Linked DNA regions of Homo sapiens: region 2 is reported to be linked to region 1. The links are microRNA targets in miRTarBase. Many come from high-throughput screens and were not tested one by one. Region 1 holds a microRNA gene; the other region holds the end of a gene's coding sequence.

Evidence for each region. Region 1 holds the annotated microRNA hsa-miR-607 (GUUCAAAUCCAGAUCUAUAAC, at 2,071-2,091, shown strand). A microRNA usually pairs through its seed, bases 2 to 8, with sites in the 3' UTR of a target mRNA and lowers its output. Matches are read on the target gene's strand: a 7mer-m8 pairs with bases 2 to 8, a 7mer-A1 pairs with bases 2 to 7 and ends in A, and an 8mer does both.
Region 2: miRTarBase lists ZNF549 as a target of hsa-miR-607. The part of its 3' UTR that is shown has no 7-base or 8-base seed match.

Annotation. Positions count from the first base shown.
Region 1 is chr10:96,825,698-96,830,774 of GRCh38, reverse strand. It overlaps MIR607 (microRNA 607), which reads left to right and starts at 2,011; the gene lies at 2,011-2,106. LOC102723665 (a long non-coding RNA gene) reads left to right here. Exons shown (of 1, transcript NR_135921.1): 1 at 1-143. RefSeq lists a cis regulatory region at 1-129.
Region 2 is chr19:57,538,157-57,543,233 of GRCh38, reverse strand. It overlaps ZNF549 (zinc finger protein 549), which reads right to left. Exons shown (of 4, transcript NM_001199295.2): 4 at 2,358-5,077. The coding sequence ends at 4,307. It overlaps ZNF550 (zinc finger protein 550), which reads left to right. Exons shown (of 4, transcript NM_001397372.1): 4 at 1-1,396. Among named protein-coding and RNA genes, the nearest start is that of ZNF549, 13 kb to the right of the region's middle.

The DNA of each region.
Region 1 (5,077 bases):
ATGGCAGGACATCTTGTATCACCTGAAACTTCCTTTTTTCGCCGCTAGGTGGTGGGTGTGAGTCTTTTGCGGCCTTTAAGTTTCTACGGTGTTTGGAGGAAATACGTTTCAGTTTCAAATAAATGAACAACGTGTAACTCTAAGATGAGTAAATAATCAATGTGTTTTCCAACCACCCCAAGTTAATTTGTTTAAAAAACAATCAAACCAAGGGTAATAATTCCTCGACATAATCTCTTAGTCCCAGACATATGGATTCAGAGAATCCTAGAGGCTTCAGAGATCAATTTTGTAACTTAAGATATGAAATTGGAAGCCCAGACAAGTAAGGTGATTTGACCAAGATTACATAGTTGCTGGGTAGAGAAAGGGCAACAAAAGCCAGGAGACAAGTTTCCCAATTTCCAATTTAATGCTAGTTTTACTACTCTACTCTGAGTTCCAATTTCTGCTTCACTTATTTTGAGTTGGGAACTAACTCATGGTTGACCTATCACAAAGACCTATTTGGAAGAAAGGATAGGGAGGCAATAGTAACAGCTAATATTCATTGAGCACCTATTATATGTTTATCATTGTTTCATTCCATCCAGATAATAATGCTATGAGTATATATTTACCACATTTTCCAAGTTAGGGACACAAGACTCAGATGAGTTAAATACATTTGTCAAGATCACATAGCTACCAAATTCTAACTAAGATCTCTGTGACTCTAAACCCCTCTAAATTGTCTTACAAGTAGAAAGTTGGCTTGGCGCGGTGGCTCACGCCTGTAATCTCTGCACTTTGGGAGGCTGAAGTGGGCAGATCACTTGAGGTCAGGAGTTCAAGACCAGCCTGGCCAACATGGTGAAACCCCGTCTCCACTAAAAATACAAAAATTAGCTAGGCATGGTGGTGGGCACCTGTAATCCCAGCTACTCAAGAGGCTGAGGCAGGAGAATCCGTTGAACCCAGGAAGTGGAGGTGGCAGTGAGCCGAGATCGTGCCACTGCACTCCAGCCTGGGCGACAGAGCTGAGACTCCATCTTGATAAATAAATAAATAATAAGTAAATAAATAAATAGTCTTACAAGTAGAAAATAGACTCTGCAACTGGAGGATTCACTTAACTCTACATGACATGTTCCGAGCACAGTTAAGCAGTTGGACATTCTGTGTTCCTATCACATGGCAGGCGGTGTCCCAGGCACCGAGGACATAGATAGATAAGACAGAATTTCTGACCTCTGTTGCTTTGGGCTACTGTTAAAGAGGGCCTTAGCTGTAAACTCTTACATTCTAGGGAGGGGCAGGTAATATAACATGGCAGTTAATAGGGTCTGAAGACAGCTGGGTTGGAATTCTGGCTCCATTTTTCAGTGGCTGTGTGACCTTGACATATTAACTTTTCTGGTCATTAATTTCCTCATGTGAAAAAGAGGATAATAATAGTCTGCAAGATGGGGTTTGTGTGAAAATGAAATGAAACTATTCACGTACAGTGCTAGCACATTCTTAGCATGAAATGAGCATCTGTTCTCTGATTAGGCCTTCCTAAGCTCCTATCTGTTTGCCCAGTCTGCAGGATGATGGGAAACCAAGATGCTTCTGCAGTTTGGAGTTAATCTGTGAGAGTATGAAGGAATGATAGCAATGACCTCAGCCTTTGAAAACAACCTCTGAGCCATGTTCTATAGTTCTCACAATGGCAGAAAAGGAATGTCAGGGAAGGGGAGTAGGACTTGGCTTGTCAGCATTAGATCAACTACTACCTGGTGTCTGATTAAAGATGGCTTGCAACATAGAAATGATCATTGACAAATGGGAGGATGAAATGATTGGGGCCTTCTAAAAAAAGCATGTCCTAATGGGAGGCTTTTTTAAAAAAACATAGTCAACTTCAAATAAATTCCAACAAGCAAGAGATGCTTTTTGAAGCACGTTTCAAAGATTATGTTATTTATTCTTCGCAACAACCCAATCGTGTATCCCATTTTATAACAGAGCACAGAGAGGTTAAGTAACTTGCCTAAAGTCACACAGGTTATAGATCTGGATTGGAACCCAGGGAGCCAGACTGCCTGGGTTCAAATCCAGATCTATAACTTGTGTGACTTTGGGCGAGTTACTTAAAGCCGGCTCTTTAACCATCACACTATTTTTTGCTTCCAGTGCTATTTCGGGGAAATGAGACCTAAGTCAGAGACAAGACCTAGCCAGACAGAAAGGAAGCCATGTCACTTGGTCACACGGCTTTTGGTCTTTTTGAGAAACTACTCATGTAGTGGCTTTTTTTGCTTAATAAAAGACTTTCAGGCCGGGCATGGTGGCTCACGCCTGTAATTTCAGCACTTTGGGAGACCAAGCCGGGAGGATCACTTGAGGTCAGGAGTTCGAGACCAGCCTGGACAGCATGGTGAAACACTGTCTCTACCAAAAATACAAAAAAAATTAGCTGGGTATGGGGTGCACCTGTAATCCCAGCTTCTTTGGAGGCTGAAGCAGGAAAATCACTTGAAGCCGGGAAGCAGAGGTTGCAGTGAGCTGATATCATGCCACTGCACTCCAGCCTGGGCAACAAAGCAAGACCCTGTTTCAATAAATAAATAACTTTCAGAGTTTCTCTCTTTTCAGCCTGTATACCTCTATGCCACTGGCCTAGAAAACATGTATGATTTTACTTTATGTTGTACGTGTGACATTTATTTTTCTTCTGTAGTTTTATTGAGATATATTTCACATACCATAAAATTCGCCCATTTGAAGTGTCCACTTCATCTGAAAGCAGGCAGTGGGAGGAGTGGCATCTCTTGGCTTTTTCCTGGGCTCTTGGCTCTGGGTCTTTGGCGCATGTTTTAGCATGGTAGAAATGTTTGACTGTCCCAGCCGGGTGCTGCCTTTCTGCATAAATGAGATCTTTTCTGCCTGGCAACATGGTTTTACCCTCACATCCAAAAGCTCCTAGTTCCTACACAGCTACTGGCTTGTCTGTTTTGAGGCAGTTCCCTTCTTGGAGGTTTCCTTGATATAGCTATGGGTTTGGGTGTCCACTATCCCCATGCCACTAAGCTTGTTCTAGAGTTCAAGACCCATCAACCCCTGCCCCCCAACCACCACCAACTGCGAAAGATTCCTCTTGGGCTCTTTCCCCATTATCTTTTCATCCTACCAGTCAGAAAGGAGGATCATTATTGGAGATCTACTGTTTACTAATATATTGGATGGAGGTGGTGCCCACCCTCTTGGCAGAGGAAAAGATTACAGCTACTAATGCGTCTGACCCCAGCCTGAACCAGTGTTTTAGTATCAAAGGCAAGTGAGACATAGTGTTGCTGTTCATGACCTTGTCCCCAACACAGCCACCTCTGTTTCACCTGCCTTACGTCCAGAAATGCTTTATCCCTACTGTGGAGCAGCTGACTCTGGGGATCCCATGCCAGAATCATGGGGAGATAGACCATGGCCAGGATATATTTCCAGCAGAGAAGCTCTGTCATCTGCAGGATTGCAAGGTGAACCTTCACAGAGCTGCCTGCGGTGAGTGTATTGTTGCACCCAAGACTTCCAGCTTCCCTTACTGTCAGGGGACCTGCCTGACCCTCAACAGTGAGCTTCATCAATCCAACTTTGCACTCAAAGTTTGCACTATAAGAGGGGAGTGCCTATTGATCTGTTCCTGGCTCTTTCAGACCTGTAGTCCCACCAAGGTCATTCTCTTCTCCCTAACGGTCCAGGATGACGAACGTAAGATGAGCGTTCACTGTGTGAACGCATCCTTGATAGAGAAGTGTGGCTGCTCTTGAGACACCCGGGAGCCTCCTCCTGGCTCCATACCCTCCTAAGTCTCGGGACTCAAGTGGGGGGTGGGATTGGTTCCCATAGCAACTAGAGCTCTTTGAAGGGAGGTAGGATTTGGCTTCTGTTTCTCAAAGCACAGCAAGAAGGATGGAGTTATGGCAGTAACCCCTCTTAGATGCTCCTTTTTGACATGGACAGAGGCTCCCCCAGTGCTGTTCTCAGTAACTCCTATTACTGGGAAGCTGAGCCCATTGAGATGTCTGACTATTGCTCTGTCCTAGATTGTGTGAGTGGGCCAGGCTTAGTGCCACCTCTGGAGTTACTTAGATGGAGAAAGAGGAACTGGAATTGGATGCATGTTAGCCCTCAGTGTAGAGGTAAAATTGTTACTGGTGTTAAACAAGGCTGGCTTTGGACTTTTCCAAGCTCGTTAGCTGCCACTGTCCTTCTCTGTACCATAGGACTGGGGCTGGTCCAGAGCTGGCCTAGGCATGTAAATTCCTCCCTACCTAGCATTCCTGGCCTCTTTGGAGTGAGTGAGGGCTCTGTCCAAGGCAGCATTCTGTCATGGGCTAGTTATGGGCAAAGGGCACCAACGCCTTCCCTACCTAGTGTCAGATGGGAGCCTCTGAGTGAAGAACATTGCTCGACAGATTGTTGATGGAGGGGGCTTCTGGCATCAGAAGTCTTTCTTTCTTTTCTTTTCTTTCTTTCTTCTTTCCTTCTTTCCTTCTTTTCTTTCTTTCTTTCTTTTTTTTTTTTTTTTTGAGACAGAGTCTCACTCTATCACACAGGCTGGAGTGCAGTGGCACAATCTCAGCTTTCTGCAACCTCCACCTCCCGGGTTCAAGCAGTTCTCTTGCCTCACCCTCCCAAGTAGCTGGGATTACAGGCACCCACCACCACGCCCAGCCCGGAAGGTTTTCTTACTATCATTTAAGGAACTTGATGATATTAGCTTTTCTACTATCTTTAGAACTTAGTACCATTACAAAATAATAAAAGAATAAAATGTACACTTCAGGGGGTTTTCGTATATTCACAAAGTTGTGCAACCATCACCACAATCACTTTTAGAACATTTCATCACCCCAGAAAGAAACCCTGAAATATCAGCAGTTATTCATCATTCCCCATCTCCTCACCCGCTGGCAACAACAAATCTAGTTTTTTCTTTTTTTTTTTTTTTTTTTTTTTGAGACAGAGTCTCGCTCTGTCGCCCAGGCTGGAGTGCAGCGATGCAATCTCGGCTCACTGCAAGCTCCGCCTCCCGGGTTCACGCCATTCTCCTGCC
Region 2 (5,077 bases), not on the chromosome of region 1:
TAAGGTTGAAAAGAGAAATTTAAGAAATTGCTGACGGAATAAAAACATAATAGAACTACAACACCGAAGGAAATGAAAGAAGCAAGAAGGAAAGCACCAGAAGTGATTTGGAAGAGAAATCCTAAAATGAATGTGAACAACAGAGTGATCAGAAGAGTGTAGGGAATTAATAGTTTCTTTAAACAAGCCATCTCACAATGGAAGCCTGTGTGTCTTGAAATTGCTGTGGTTATTATTCACTCTGCCCTTTGAAGAACTGCAGAAATTCATAGGGCAATGTTAAGTGTTTGTGTCTCCAAAAAAGATGTTGGAGTCGTTACCCTCAGAACCTCAGGTAATCATGTTAGTTAATCCATTAGGTTAGTTCCTAATTGACTATGACTGTGTCCTTAGAAAAATGGGAAATTTGGTCACAGAGGCAGATGTACAGAGGGAAGACGATGTGAAGACACAGGAAGAACATCTTCAAGCCAAGGAACACACGGGGCTACCAGAAGCCGAGATAGAAGCATGGAACATATGTTCTAGTAAGAAGTGTCTGGGTTGTTTTGGTTTTTTTTCTTTGGAGTTTTTGTGGTATTAAATTATTTTTAAATTATGTTTTATTGTAGACCTCACAATTCTTTTTTTTTCTTTTTCACTCAAACTACAGCAAAATATTATATTTCTATCCTATATTTCATGGGCTTACCTCTAGCCAATTGTTTTTAACTGCCATGTAATATTTTACATCATGAAGCTTTCATCCTTGATTCAAATCCTCTGATTATGGACATGTATTTCCTCCATTTTCCTGCTATGAAATATATCACCACCAGCTTGATTCAACCTTAAAAATAAGGTCATCAGTATTATGTTCTAAATAAACTTATGGCCATACATGAGAAATGTACCTTGCAGCTGAATGGCTAGGTCATATGGTGATCTAGTATGTAACTGGAATTATGTTATACATTGCCCTTCCTCTCCCATAAGATGGACAAAAGTGTTTCTGTATCACTGTGTCCCAGACAATATTTAGAATTACCCAGCTTTCCAGTTTTTACTTTAGAAGTTTAAAGTGATATAGAATATATCTGGTATTTCTCATATTGAAATACATTTGAACATTAGTTCATATCCTTTCATTGCCTTTTGTTTTTCCTCTTCTGTCAATGGTCTACTCATATGTTGGCCTGTCTTTATTTGTATCTTGACTTTTTATTGTGTATTTTGTTTATGGTGGGGTACTTTATTGGTGATTAATACGATTTTCAAGTATATTATATGGGCTAGTCCCTTGATACTATTGACACTGTATTTATCTTCAGTCTCTTGTTGGTATCTAACTTTGGTTCTGAAGTTTATGGAATGGAAGTATTTAATTGGAAAGATTAAACATATTGATTTTAATTAATATTTTTGACTTGTTAGGATTTTTGAATACTCAGGCATAACTCACAAAATTATGCTGCTGGCTTTAAAATTAGTTTTACATTGATTCTTAGAGCATCTTAATCATTAGTAAGGATTAAATCCAAAGTACACACAGTGAAGATAATTTTAAAACTATTTAAAATGGTAAATTTACCTATTAAAGATGAAGCATGAGAACGGGGCAGGAAATGTCATATAGTTCCACTTTTATATGGATTTGCTCAGAGAAACCCCTGAGAATGAGACTGATGAGAATAATGGCATAAAGGTTTTGGCAGACAAGCTATATAGGAAGTGGGAATAACAAGGGCAAATTTTCTTGTCTGGTTAGCTCTTTTAAAAAATAAAATGATCTTGTAAAGATAATTGGAATTTGGCAAAATAACAAAAATTAAGTATGCGTAAGGGATGGCGAAGCAAAATTAAGAACTCTTTCAATGTGTTAAGGTCAGAATAACAGCAGAGAAATACTGTAGGCTGACAGAAATTCTAATATTGCAAATAATTTACAAAATAAATACCTTATGTAATATCAGTTGAATAACAATCTTTCCAAAGTTCCTATAATTACACAATTTTTTTTTTTCGAGATGGGAGTCCTGCTCTGTCGCCCAGGCTGGAGTGTAGTGGCGCAATCTTGGCTCACTGCAGCCTCCGCCTCCTGGGTTCAAGCAGTCCTCCCACCTAGGCCTCCCAAGTAGCTAGCTAGGACTACAGGCGCCCACCACCATGCCCAGCTAATTTTTGTATTTTTAGTAGAATGGGGTTTTGCCATGTTGGCCAGGCTGGTCTCAAACTCCTGACCTCAGGTGATCCGGCCCACCTTGGCTTCCCAAAGTGCTGGGATTATGGGCGTGAGCCACCGTGCCCAGCCAAGGAATAAAATTTTTTTAATAGCACCAAAATAACAGTAAATGAACAAACAGACAAATTAGACTTCATCAAAATTAAGAACATTTCATTTGGAAGACTGAATGAAATAAGGTGAATGAAAACACACAAAATAGAATATATACACACGTATTTCTTATCTGTTCTTTTTGTTTTTGTTTTTGTTTTTTGAGAAGTGTCACTCTGTCGCCCAGGCTGGAGTGCAATGGCGCGACCTTGGCTCATTGCAACCTCCGCCCCCCAGGTTCAAGCAATTCTCCTGCCTCAGCCTCCTGTGTAGCTGGGATTACAAATGCACGCCACCACGCCTGGCTAATTTTTGTATTTTAAGTAGAGACTGGATTTCACCATGTTGGTCAGGCTGGTCTCAAACTCCTGACCTCAGGTGATCCACCTGCCTTGGCCTCCCAAAGTGCTGGGATTACAGGCATGAGCCACCGCACCCAGCCTATACACACATATTTCTAAGACAAGACACTTACTGAGATAACATGACTATCAAAACCCATTAACTGGGCAATAAACCATACAGACAGTTCTTAAAAAGATAGAAGGTTTTGTGTATGAAAACTGCACCTCAATGTTTTAAGATAAATGGTTCCACACAAAAATATGCATCTACCTCTCCTTTTGGAAAACCAGACTATAGGATAACACAAGATTTACTTATTATTAAGGATTCATCTCCTCACAAGTTAGGAAGGACAGCCTTCTCAGCAGTGGCAATAAACGGGAAGTAATAAAGATAATTCCTAACTGGCACAACAGATCTGGGTGAATCACAAAAACCACATATCTGGAAGGCAAGGTGTATGTTCTCTCAAATCCTGCTTTCCTGCCCGTGCAGCAATCATCTCAAAAACAGTACATAAGTTATGAGTCCACAAAATCTTTAGATGCCTTATGCTGACGATGTGTGTTGCTAAAGGAGAATCAAAGGTCTGAGGTCCTGAGAATTTCTATATACCCCCAAACCATGAAGCCATAGTAACACAGACATATCTGGATGCACCTTTGGATGGGACACATTCACTCTTCTTGGCCACAATCTTTTCTACTCTGTTTATCACACCTACCTGTCTGGGCCAATTACTGTTCTTACCTGGCCCCAGTAGGTCTTACAACCAGTGACCTACCTACCAATTCAGTCCTTCAGTGCCCATGGCTACAATGAAGGACCTGGGAAATAAGATACCATGAACAGTGCTGGGAAATATGAAGCATCACTGCAAATAAACAATTCATGCAGGTCCCAGCACTTGAGTTTGTCACAAATGCCTCTTCTCAGGGAGACCTCTGGACCTACAAATAAATCTGGCATCGACACCATGATTAGGACCACACAGCTCTGCTCTCCTTCCTAGGAGACCTTGGAAACCAATAAAAATTAAGACAAACAGGACTAAGAACTATTTTCCGATCTCATACTATGTCCCTGGGGGGACATAAAGTTGGAGCTGTTCACCCTTCACACTGGCAGAGCACATACATCAGCACATGGTAAGACAGCCCATTTCCCTCTTGGGTAATGTGGGAGAGGGAATATCCCACTATGGCAATCACATAAAAAAAAAAAAAACCTATGAAGAAGGTAAACCTCCATGGGCTACAAGAATCCAGATTGCTCTTCTTGGTCAAAGTTGGGTTTTGTCTTTGCCTCGAACAGTTCAGCAAGATGGAAGAGGACCCTCAACAGGCTTTTATTATATTATTCCCTTCAGAATTTGGTAAGCACAGTGGTCTGCATTCCTTGAGCACATGTGAGTGACTGATGAAAACGGTGAGGATATGCCACATGGTAGTGTCTGTTGTAACACTGGGCAGATTAGAAAGTACAAGTAATCTCTAGAAAGCTTCCCAAGTACTTGGACCTTGTAGTGAATCTTTCAACTAGTGATATGCAGATGTATGAGGGTGAATTTCTGTCTGTTGGATCCCTTGAAAAATCAGCTCTCTGGTGTCCTACAGTGAATAAGACAATTACACATCCCAACAATTGCTAGGGCTCTTCTGTTATATGTACCTTCTGGTGCCTGACAAGGGAATATCTTTTGTTGAAGGCTTTCCCACATTTACCACATTCATACGGCTTTTCTCCGGTGTGGATTCGCTGATGCTCAACAAGTTTGTTTTTATAGATAAAGGCCTTCTCACATGCAGTGCAGTTATAAGGCCTCTCTCCACTGTGAACTTTCTGGTGTTGAATGAGGCTGGTGCGGTGTCTAAAGCATTTCCCACATTCACTGCACTCACAGGGCTTTTCGCCAGTGTGAACTTTCTGGTGCTCAAGAAGTCTTTTTTGGTGGCTGAAGACTTTTCCACATTCATTGCACTCACAAAGTTGTTCTCTAGTATGGATTCTTTGGTGCTGAAGAAGTTTAACCTCAAGGTAGAAGCCTTTTCCACATTCACTGCATTCATAAGGCCTTTCTCTAGTGTGGATTTTGTGATGCTTAAGAAGTGTTTGTTTGGAGATGAAGGCTTTCCCACAGTCACTGCATTCATAAGCCCTTTCTCCAGTGTGAATTCTCTGGTGTCGCATGTAGTCAGACGAGCGGATAAATGATTTCCCACATATGATGCACACATAAGGCTTTTCTCCAGTATGAATTCTCTGGTGCTCAAGAAGTCTTTTTTTGTGAATGAAGGCCTTCCCACATTCTTTGCACTCATAAGGCCTTTCTCCCGTGTGGATTCTATGGTGATCAAGAAGTGACTGTTTGTATATGAAGGATTTCCCACATTCACTGCACTGATAAGCCCCTTCTCC